3 separate regions of the Homo sapiens genome follow, and regions 1 and 2 are each reported to be linked to region 3. The links are microRNA targets in miRTarBase. Many come from high-throughput screens and were not tested one by one. Region 3 holds a microRNA gene; each other region holds the end of a gene's coding sequence.
Evidence for each region. Region 3 holds the annotated microRNA hsa-miR-4683 (UGGAGAUCCAGUGCUCGCCCGAU, at 965-987, opposite strand). A microRNA usually pairs through its seed, bases 2 to 8, with sites in the 3' UTR of a target mRNA and lowers its output. Matches are read on the target gene's strand: a 7mer-m8 pairs with bases 2 to 8, a 7mer-A1 pairs with bases 2 to 7 and ends in A, and an 8mer does both.

Region 1: the mRNA of TNFRSF10A is a reported target of hsa-miR-4683. Seed matches in the 3' UTR shown: 7mer-m8 at 1,391-1,397.
Region 2: the mRNA of TERF2 is a reported target of hsa-miR-4683. Seed matches in the 3' UTR shown: 7mer-m8 at 2,398-2,404.

The regions. Positions count from the first base shown.
Region 1 is chr8:23,189,124-23,192,371 of GRCh38, reverse strand. It overlaps TNFRSF10A (TNF receptor superfamily member 10a), which reads left to right. Exons shown (of 10, transcript NM_003844.4): 10 at 359-1,920. The coding sequence ends at 678. Among named protein-coding and RNA genes, the nearest start is that of TNFRSF10D, 27 kb to the right of the region's middle.
Region 2 is chr16:69,354,193-69,357,398 of GRCh38, forward strand. TERF2 (telomeric repeat binding factor 2) reads right to left here. Exons shown (of 10, transcript NM_005652.5): 10 at 1,375-2,864. The coding sequence ends at 2,706. Among named protein-coding and RNA genes, the nearest start is that of TMED6, 4.0 kb to the left of the region's middle.
Region 3 is chr10:35,640,217-35,643,464 of GRCh38, forward strand. It overlaps MIR4683 (microRNA 4683), which reads right to left and starts at 1,036; the gene lies at 956-1,036. It overlaps FZD8 (frizzled class receptor 8), which reads right to left and starts at 2,080. Exons shown (of 1, transcript NM_031866.3): 1 at 1-2,080. The coding sequence starts at 1,213. LOC124902528 (zinc finger protein 469-like) reads right to left here and starts at 2,630. Exons shown (of 2, transcript XM_047426128.1): 1 at 2,414-2,630; 2 at 1,512-2,197. The coding sequence starts at 2,630. The coding sequence ends at 1,512. LOC105376494 (a long non-coding RNA gene) reads left to right here and starts at 3,099. Exons shown (of 2, transcript XR_930820.3): 1 at 3,099-3,248. RefSeq lists an enhancer at 269-428 and a silencer at 539-628.

The DNA of each region.
Region 1 (3,248 bases), not on the chromosome of region 3:
CCCGCATCCTCTGAGCTCCCGCTGCAGCCACTCTCCCTCCCTCCCTCGGGCTCTCACCCACTTTGCTTTCTGCCTCCGTAGGGTCAATCCATCCTCCCCAGGTGGGTTCTCAGCCCTCTCTGAGGGCAGATTCTCTGGTGACCTTGACGCCCGTCAGCGCCTTGGGGGCCACAGAGGCCAGGCAGTGTGGGTGGGCTCTCTGTGGATGGGAGGTGGGTGGGCAATGGAGCAACAGGTTTGCCCATGCAGGGGGCTCTCCAGGTTCTCTCCTTGGGTTCTGGGCCTGATGTGGGATCCTCTGCCCCTTCTGAACTGAGTCCCAACTCATCTGGCTGTCTCTGTGGCTTTCTCCACCCAGCTCTGATGCTGTTCTTTGACAAGTTTGCAAACATCGTGCCCTTTGACTCCTGGGACCAGCTCATGAGGCAGCTGGACCTCACGAAAAATGAGATCGATGTGGTCAGAGCTGGTACAGCAGGCCCAGGGGATGCCTTGTATGCAATGCTGATGAAATGGGTCAACAAAACTGGACGGAACGCCTCGATCCACACCCTGCTGGATGCCTTGGAGAGGATGGAAGAGAGACATGCAAGAGAGAAGATTCAGGACCTCTTGGTGGACTCTGGAAAGTTCATCTACTTAGAAGATGGCACAGGCTCTGCCGTGTCCTTGGAGTGAAAGACTCTTTTTACCAGAGGTTTCCTCTTAGGTGTTAGGAGTTAATACATATTAGGTTTTTTTTTTTTTTAACATGTATACAAAGTAAATTCTTAGCCAGGTGTAGTGGCTCATGCCTGTAATCCCAGCACTTTGGGAGGCTGAGGCGGGTGGATCACTTGAGGTCAGAAGTTCAAGACCAGCCTGACCAACATCGTGAAATGCCGTCTTTACAAAAAAATACAAAAATTAACTGGATGTGATGGTGTGTGCATATATTCTCGGCTACTCGGGAGGCTGAGGCAGGAGAATCACTTGAACCCACGAGGCAGTGAGCTGAGATTGCACCACTGCACTCCAGCCTGGGACACAGAGCAAGACTCTGTCTCAAGATAAAATAAAATAAACTTGAAAGAATTATTGCCCGACTGAGGCTCACATGCCAAAGGAAAATCTGGTTCTCCCCTGAGCTGGCCTCCGTGTGTTTCCTTATCATGGTGGTCAATTGGAGGTGTTAATTTGAATGGATTAAGGAACACCTAGAACACTGGTAAGGCATTATTTCTGGGACATTATTTCTGGGCATGTCTTCGAGGGTGTTTCCAGAGGGGATTGGCATGCGATCGGGTGGACTGAGTGGAAAAGACCTACCCTTAATTTGGGGGGGCACCGTCCGACAGACTGGGGAGCAAGATAGAAGAAAACAAAAAAAAAAGGAAAAGCAAATCCATCTGATCTCCTGGAGCTGGGACACTCTTCTGCCTGTGGACATCAGAGTCTAGGATTTCTAGCCCTTGGACTCCAGGGCATACACCAGTGGCCTCCCGAAGGATCTAAGGATTTTGGCCTTGAACTAAGAATTACACCATCGGCTTCCCTGGGTCTTAGGTTTTTGGGCTGGATTAAGTCCTGCTTCCAGCATTTCAGGGTCTCTGCTGTGCAGATGGCCTGTTGTGGAACTTCTCAACCTCCATTATCAGATGCATTAATTCCTCCAATAAGTCCCATTTCATATATAGTCATTTACCCCACAACATTTCAGTCAAGGGAACAGCATATAAGATGGTGGCCGTCCAGTAAGCTAAGGTTAATTTATTAATTATTTAATTTATTTACCTTGAGTTCAAGTCACAATTAAAGTACATATACCTTTGGAAATTTGGACTTTTGTATATAAAAGTACTTTTTTTTGGCGGGGGCAGTGGGCAGCTCTCATCCTAAACAAATGTGTTATTTGGTACCTATGCAAAGATTTGGTTAAAAGAAAGAAAAGAATTGCTTCCATAAATGGAGCATTTTCTTAGAAAAACTGGAGCCCATCTAAATGTTTTTCAAGGTCACGTGATCTGAGATAATCTTTAGTAAATAGAAAGCTAGTTTAAGTTTCTTGGTTTAATTAAAACAGACAATTCTTAAGAGTTGTCAACATTATTTACAGTTCACACATACAACTTCTACCTGGATTTACTAATCAAAACACTTACGTGTGGCCGGGCATGGTGGCTCACGCCTGTAATCCCAGCACTTTGGGAGGCCGAGGTGGGTGGATCACAGGGTCAGGAGATCAAGACCATCCTGGTTAACACGGTGAAACCCCGTCTCTACTAAAAATACAAAAAATTAGCCGGGCGTGGTGGTGGGTGCCTGTAGTCCCAGCTACTCGGGAGGCCGAGGCAGCAGAATGGCGTGAACCTGGGAGGCTGAGCTTGCAGTGAGCCGAGATCGTGCCACTGCACTCCAGCCTGGGTGACAGAGCGAGACTCCGACTCAAAAAAAAAGAACACTTATGTGTCTTTAAGATCATAAAACTGTAAATTCAACTGAAGAACAAAATGCACAAGGAAAAGATAAATTTCTTGATATATATGAAACACAAGAAAGAAAAAGAAGATTGAAAAGAGCCATATGTTTTCAATGTATGTTTCTTTGTATTTTGTGTGTTTTTATGTGTTTATTTTTGTGTTTTTTTATGTTATGTGATGTTTGTGTATTTTTGATATTTTTATAAGATGTCTACCTCCTTTTTTTTTTTTTTGAGACAGAGTCTCTTGTCACCCAGACTGGAGTGCAGTGGCAACGATCTCCACTCACTGCAAGCTCCGCCTCCTGGGTTCACACCATTCTCCTGCCTCAGCCTCCTGAGTAACTGGGACTACAGGCACCCACCACCAAACCTGGCTAATTTTTTGTATTTTTAGTAGAGACAGGGTTTCACCGTGTTAACCAGGATGGTCTGGATCTCCTGACCTCGTGATCCACCCACCTCGGCCTCCCAAAGTGCTGGGATTATGGGCGTGAGCCACTGCACCTAGCCAAGATGTCTACTTTTAAATATTTTTATATTTAATTTTTGGTAACTTAAAAATCTTATATTAACCTAAGTTAAATGATGGTTATTTGTATTAGTCTGTTTTCTGTTGCTATCACTGAATACCTCAGAGTAGGGAGTGGGTAATTTATAAAGAAAATAAATTTATGTATTATGGTTCTTGGGGCTAGGAAGTCCAAGGGCAGTCAACAGGCCAAATCTAGGGAGGGCCTTCTTGCTAATGGGCTCTGATATGGTTTGGATCTGTGGCCCCACCAAAGTC
Region 2 (3,206 bases), not on the chromosome of region 3:
ACTGATTAGGATATTTTGTTTCCCTAAATGCATCAGTTTCACTCCTCTACCTGGAGAGCACCATTGACTCACATGAGAGTTAAGGGGAGAAAAGCTTCTGGATTCTAATCCGGTTCAGAGGGAGACCAAACCAGCTGCAGGCAGAAGGCGGCTAGCCTGAAAGGAGCTCAAGTTCTCAACTTCTCCCTGTGGTTTCAGTTGGGGTTGGTTGATAGAAGAACAATAGGTACTAAACCCCAAAATGCAGTTAATAGGTAATAAAGCTGTATGAAGTTTCCAACTTGTAACTAATGGATGAATTTTTTTTTTTTTTGAGATGGAGTCTCACTCTATCACCCAGGCTGGAGTGCAGTGGTGCGATCTCGGTTTATTGCAACCGCCACCTCCCCGGTTCAAGCGATTCTCCTGCCTCAGCCTTCCGAGTAGCTGGGACTACAGGCGCCTGCCACCATGCCTGGCTAATTTTGTATTTTTCAAAATTTTTAATTTTAAACTTTTTTTTTTTTTTTTTGAGAAGGAGTTTTGCTCTTTTTGCCCAGGCTGGAGTGCAATGGCACCATCTCCGCTCATCACAACCTCCGCCTCCCAAGTTCAAGCAATTCTCCTGCCTCAGCCTCCCGAGAGGTCGGGATTACAGGCGCCTGCCACCATGGCTGGCTAAGTTTTTGTATTTTTAGTAGAGATGGGGTTTCACCATGTTGGCCAGGCTGGTCTTGAACTCCTGACCTCAGGTGATCCTACCCTTCTTGGCCTCGCAAAGTGCTGGGATTACAGGGGTGAGCCATGGCTCCCAGCCAGTTTTGTTTTGTTTTGAGATAGAGTCTCGCTTTGTTGCCCAGGCTGGAGTGCAGTGGCATGATCTTGGCTCGTTGCAACCTCCATCTCCCGAGTTCAAGCGATTCTTGTGCCTCAGCCTCCTGAATAGCTGGGATTACAGGCACCCGCCACCACGCCCAGCTAATTTTTGTATTTTTAGTACATAGGGTTTTACTATGTTGGCCGCGCTGGTCTCGAACTCCTGACCTCAAGTGATCCTCCTGCCTCGGCCTCCCAGAGTGCTGGGATTACAGGCATTAGCCACCATGCCTGGCCTAATGGATGAATTTTAAAACTTTAGCATTTCTTTAAGCCTTGCCTTTCACTCACTCAGAAGTGAGAAAGGGGGAATTCTTTTGTCCCCAGAAATGATATATGAGGAAACTGAAAGGTTAAGAGGAAACTTCCATATCATCTGTTTGACATAGCTTCCAAGGATTAAAACATTCAATAAAGTCTGACATCAGCTTCTTGATCAAAATAGTTCAGCAAAGTTTAACATTTTGCTACCTCCCTCTGTGGATACATGCTGTGCTGCAATTAAACAGCTACTTACAGTTGAGAGAAGCAAGACTTTAATGAAGAATGCTACAAGTATGGACAATAATTAGTTCTCACCTTTTAAAAAAAGATTACAGAAAACACTTTACTGAAATTTTTTGCTAAAAAGACAGTCTTTAAGGGTGTCCGGGAGAGACAGCAAGCACAACACAGTACAAAAGGAGAAGGGAATGTTGAATTCCAGTGCAAGACACGAACACAGCACAATTAGGGAATCAGGAGGAAGCAACCATTTCACAAAGAATGAAATTAGGCATTTATATTCAATCGGATTTTTTTTAAGCTTTAAAAGTCCAGCATAAGGAAGGGAATTGGGAAAAGAGGCAGGGGACAGGGGGCAGGGGATCAGGGAACTAATCTTATCTACAATCACCATTTTACCAAAAAACACACTGGTTCAACCACATGAGAAGTGGAGGATTAACCTGCCTACATAGCCCAGCAGATGTTGACAGCAAATGCCAAGGCAGACAGGTCTAGGGTTGATGTCACGACTGGCTAAAGAGTTTTTAAAGGGAATCTTATTCCACAAGGACTGGTCTGTCATCAACCTGGGTTCATAACAGACTAAGTTCCTTTGCATTTGCATCAGAAGGCCAGAACTTGACGTGGAACAAATTTACTCCAAATAATACTCACATTGCTGGTTTTAACAGGTCATGGAGTCACAAGTGGCTCCTAATAGACTTCACCATTTCCTAGGAGAAGGTTCTACAGATTACCAGGGATTTAAATTTAAGCAAACCACTAAAGAAGGGAAACGCTAATGATATTCTGGCACTGCACAAGCTGTGTGCCTGTCATCTCTGCCAAGGACATGGGTGGACTTGGCTCTGCTTCTTAGCTCCATGATCTCCAACAGTGATGAAGTGGAAATGGGACCTCCCCCACGTCGAAGGAGGTTGCCCAAAATTCTCATCCCAGCCCAGCTTCTGAAAGAAACAGCAGATGCCAGGCGCGGTGGCTCATGCCTGTAATCCCAGCACTTTGGGAGGCCGAGTTGGGTGGATCACGAGGTCAGGAGATCGAGACCATCCTGGCTAACACGGTGAAACCCCGTCTCTACTAAAAATACAAAACATTAGCCGGGCGTGATGGCGGGCGCCTGTAGTCCCAGCTACTCGGGAGGCTGAGGCAGGAGAATGGCGTGAGCCCGGGAGACGGAGGTCGCAGTGAGCCGAGATCACGCCACTGCACTCCAGCCTGGGTGACAGAGCGAGACTCTGTCTCAAAAAAAAAAAAAAAAGAAAAAGAAAGAAAGAGCAGACTATCAGGGGCTATTATTAGGAACCATGCTCCTGTGAATTCTGTGGAAATGAAAGCCTGTTTCAGTTCATGCCAAGTCTTTTCATGGTCCGCCAGCGATCCTTAATCATCACAGCTGTTCGGTTAACAAATGGGTAATTTTTAGAAATGGCAGCCCAGTTTCCTTCCCCATATTTCTGCACTCCAGCCTTGACCCACTCGCTTTCTTCTACAGTCCACTTCTGCAAAAGAAAACCAAAAGATTTATTACCACCTTTCCTCTCCACTTACTTACATTTTCTCCAATGTAGTGATAAGGTAAACTCAAGAATCCCAGGAGAATCATCTGAACCTGAAATCACAGCTTATGTTTTTAAACATGGAATGGACAAGATATGAGCACTGTGGATCTGGACACAGGAATTCTTGATGTCCTGCCATTTGATCCTCAAGTAACAATCACTTCTGCATTCCAAACTGCAAACATATCTACATCATTCATGTTCCGGAAAATGTGTCATCTGTTTTCCTAGTCTTTTCTTCCAGAAGATAATTATTACTTTAACTTAGTTTGGATTATCTGA
Region 3 (3,248 bases):
AGTAGACCAGCAAGAAGACCACGGTGCACAGCGCGGGGCCGGTGGTCTCGTAGCGCACGTGCTGCTCCACCGCGCCCAGCTCCTCGTACTCGCCGCGCCCGCCCGGGCCGCCCGCGCCCGCGCCCGCCGCGCCCGCGCCCGCCGCCGCGCCGCCCGCGCCCCCAGCGCCCCCCGCGCCCGGCGCGCCACCGCTGCACGCCACCTTCTCGTGGCCCGCCACCAGGCGCACTAGGTAGCCCACCGACACGAAGAGGTAGCAGGCCGAGAGGAAGATAATGGGCCGCTCCGGGTACTTGAAGCGCTCCATGTCGATAAGGAAGGTGGAGACGGTGGCGAAGGTGGACACGAAGCAGAGCACCGACCACAGGCCGATCCAGAAGACGGTGAAGGCGCGCTCGTCCTGGCTGAAAAAGGGGTTGTGGCAGGGCAGCGCGCAGTTAGCGATCTGGCCTGTCTTGACGCGGTTGTAGAGCGGGTGGCGCTCGCTGGACACGCTCACCATAGGCGCGCGGCACTGGCACCCGGGCTCGCAGGGAGCCGCGCCGCCGCCAGGGGGCCGCGCCTTCCCGCCACCGCCGCCGCCGCGAGCTGGGGGCGCCGCCGCGTCCCCGCCGCCACCGCCCCTGCCGCCGCCGCGGTGCGGGGGCCTGGCCCCCGGCGGGCGGCCGTGGCCGCTGCCCGAAGGCGGCTGCTCGCCGGGCGGCGGCGGCGGCAGGCGGCGCGGCGGGCTGGGCGCGGCGGTGGTTAGGTCGGTGCGGTTGTAGTCCATGCACAGCGTGTCAGGGTTGCCTTGCTCGGGCAGCCGGTCGCAGCGCATGCGGTCGGGCCAGGCGAAGCCGTACTGGCGCATGAGCGGCGCGCAGCCGGCCTTGGCGCGCTCGCACACCGAGCGGCAGGGCGGCAGCGGCTTCTTGTAGTCCTCTAGGCAGATGGGCGTGTACATGCTGCACAGGAAGAACTTGAGATCGGGCGAGCACTGGATCTCCACCAGCGGCCAGAACTGGTGCACCTCCAGGCCCGCCTCGTCTTGCGTGTCGTGGTTGAACTGATTGGGCATGTAGGTGTAGTTGTAGCCGATGCCCTTACACAGCGGCACGGTGATCTCTTGGCATGCCAGCTCCTTGGCCGAGGCGGCCGCAGCGCCGCTAGAGCGCTGCAGCAGCGCCAAGGCGGCCAGCAGCGAGGTCACTTCCAACAGGTAACCCCACTCCATGCTGTGCGCCTCGGCCCGGTGCCCTCGCCCTCCAGGCGGCGCGCAGAGGGGTGCCGGGGGGGGGGCCCACGAGAGAGCCGCAGACGGGTACAGCGGGTGATCTGGGGTCTCCCTTATGCTTCGCCCGGGAGGGGGGTCTGCCGATAATCTAACCCCTTCTAGGGGCGCGTCCGCAGCGGCGCGGCCCGCAGCCTGGGCAGGGCCCTTCCGCACTCCTTTCCGCCGCTCCGGGGGTTTGAAGGCGGCTGCAGGCGCGCGCCACAGTCCGTAGGTCCGCTCTGCTGGCCCCGGGTCGCGCTCAGCCCTCGCGGCGCAGAGCGGCCGGGCCTCGGCTCATCGTCCCGCGCTCGCTCGCCTCCTCTCCGCGCGCCCGACCACTTCTCCCCGCCGCGCCGGGCGGCGGTGACTCCGCCGGACAGAGAGGGCGGAGGCGCCGCAAGTTTCCTCTGGGGCCGCGGTGCGCAGTCAAGATGGCTGGGCCGGGCCGCTTGCCGCGCCGGGTCAGCCCTGGCGGCCACCACTCGGCCCCCGGGGGCTCATGCCCGCCCCCAAGGCCAAGCCGCCGCCGCCGCCGCCGGAGTTGGGGACCCGCCTCGGCCCAGGCCGCCGCCCTCTTTCTCCGGCGTCCGTCCTTCGTCCGTCCGCCGCCGGGACAGACGGACCCCCGCCGCCTGGAAAAGTCAGCGCCGCGCTCCGGCCGCAGTCGGGCGAGGTGCACACAGTCTCCTTCCTGCTGGACACCCAGGAGCAAATCCAGACCGGAAGGCGGAGCGGACACCTGAGTGGCGCGGCCCGCGCCCAGCCGCCGCCTCCTCCTCGGCGGGAGCAGCGCCCTTAGCCCAACTTCCCGGCTCCAGCCCCGCTCGCGCCGCGCTGCCGGCTCATGAATATTTATACAGCGCGGACTCGGTCTCCGCCCCCAGCCCCGCGAGCCAATCGCCGGGCGGTAGGGCGGAGTCCACGCGCTCCCAGGGCTCAGCCTTCCTTAAGGCAGTCCCCGAGTGTCCGCACTGCTGTGCGCGCTCTCTGCGGATGGAGAGTTTTGGTAACCTTGGGATTGACCGCAGAGACAGAGTGTTGGCCATGGCTGTCCCCATGGCGCTGAGTGCGTCGGAGGTCTTGGTCCCCTTACCCCGAGTCTGCCCTTGGGGACAGGGACGGGGTTTGGTGCAGCGCGCGCCTCCCCGGCGCGTTTCAAACCAGCCAAGCCCCTGCTGCCACCCTCCGCAAATGTGGGTGATCTGCAGGCGGCTGGGGTCTCGTGCTCCTCGGGGCGGCAGGAAGGTCTCGCAGCAGGCGAGCGCCGGGGAGGCCTGCCGGGGCTCGGCGCTGCAGAAGACCCGGGAAAGGGTGTCCTCCTTGGGGTTCTCAGAACGATGGTTTCTGAGACTTGGAGATGTGGGGGGTGTGGAGTCATTCTAAACTGGGGCTGGACCCGGGACGGCCCGGGTGAGATGCCCCGGAGCCCAGCCTTGGGCGCGCGAGGGGCGCGGGGGACAAATGCCCGCCAGAGACTCTCCTCCCGCCTCCGCTGCGTGACCTGGGGGAGCCTCAGTTTCCCCACCTAGAGAGTTGGGTGATCATAGCACAGATCTCCAAGGGGGCTTTGATAATTAGGTGAGATAAAATATAGGAAGCCCCGAGCCGCCGTGCTTTCTTAGGAAAAATCATTCAATTTCTTTCTAAAATTCAAAACAAACCTCGAAACTTATAAATAGGACAGGCTGGAAACTCTGGGGCTGGATTCCCTGTCTTCCCTTCGTTCTTTCAGGACGTCTATTCATCCATCCCAAGTTCACAGGCTTTTGCCAGAGCCTCCTTTTCTCTGGTGGGAGGCGGCGCTGCGCTCTGGCGTGGACTCCGCGACACGTATCTGCTCTCTGCACGAGGCCGGAGCCGGACCCGGGCTGCTTTTAGCAGCCGCTTGGGCCACCGCCAGCGAACGCTGCCCCCGCCGGCTCCGCCGCCACCTTAAGACGGGCCGGGAGGGGGGCTGCGGGCGGCCCGGGCCGGCGGCCTGGCAGGTTCATTTACG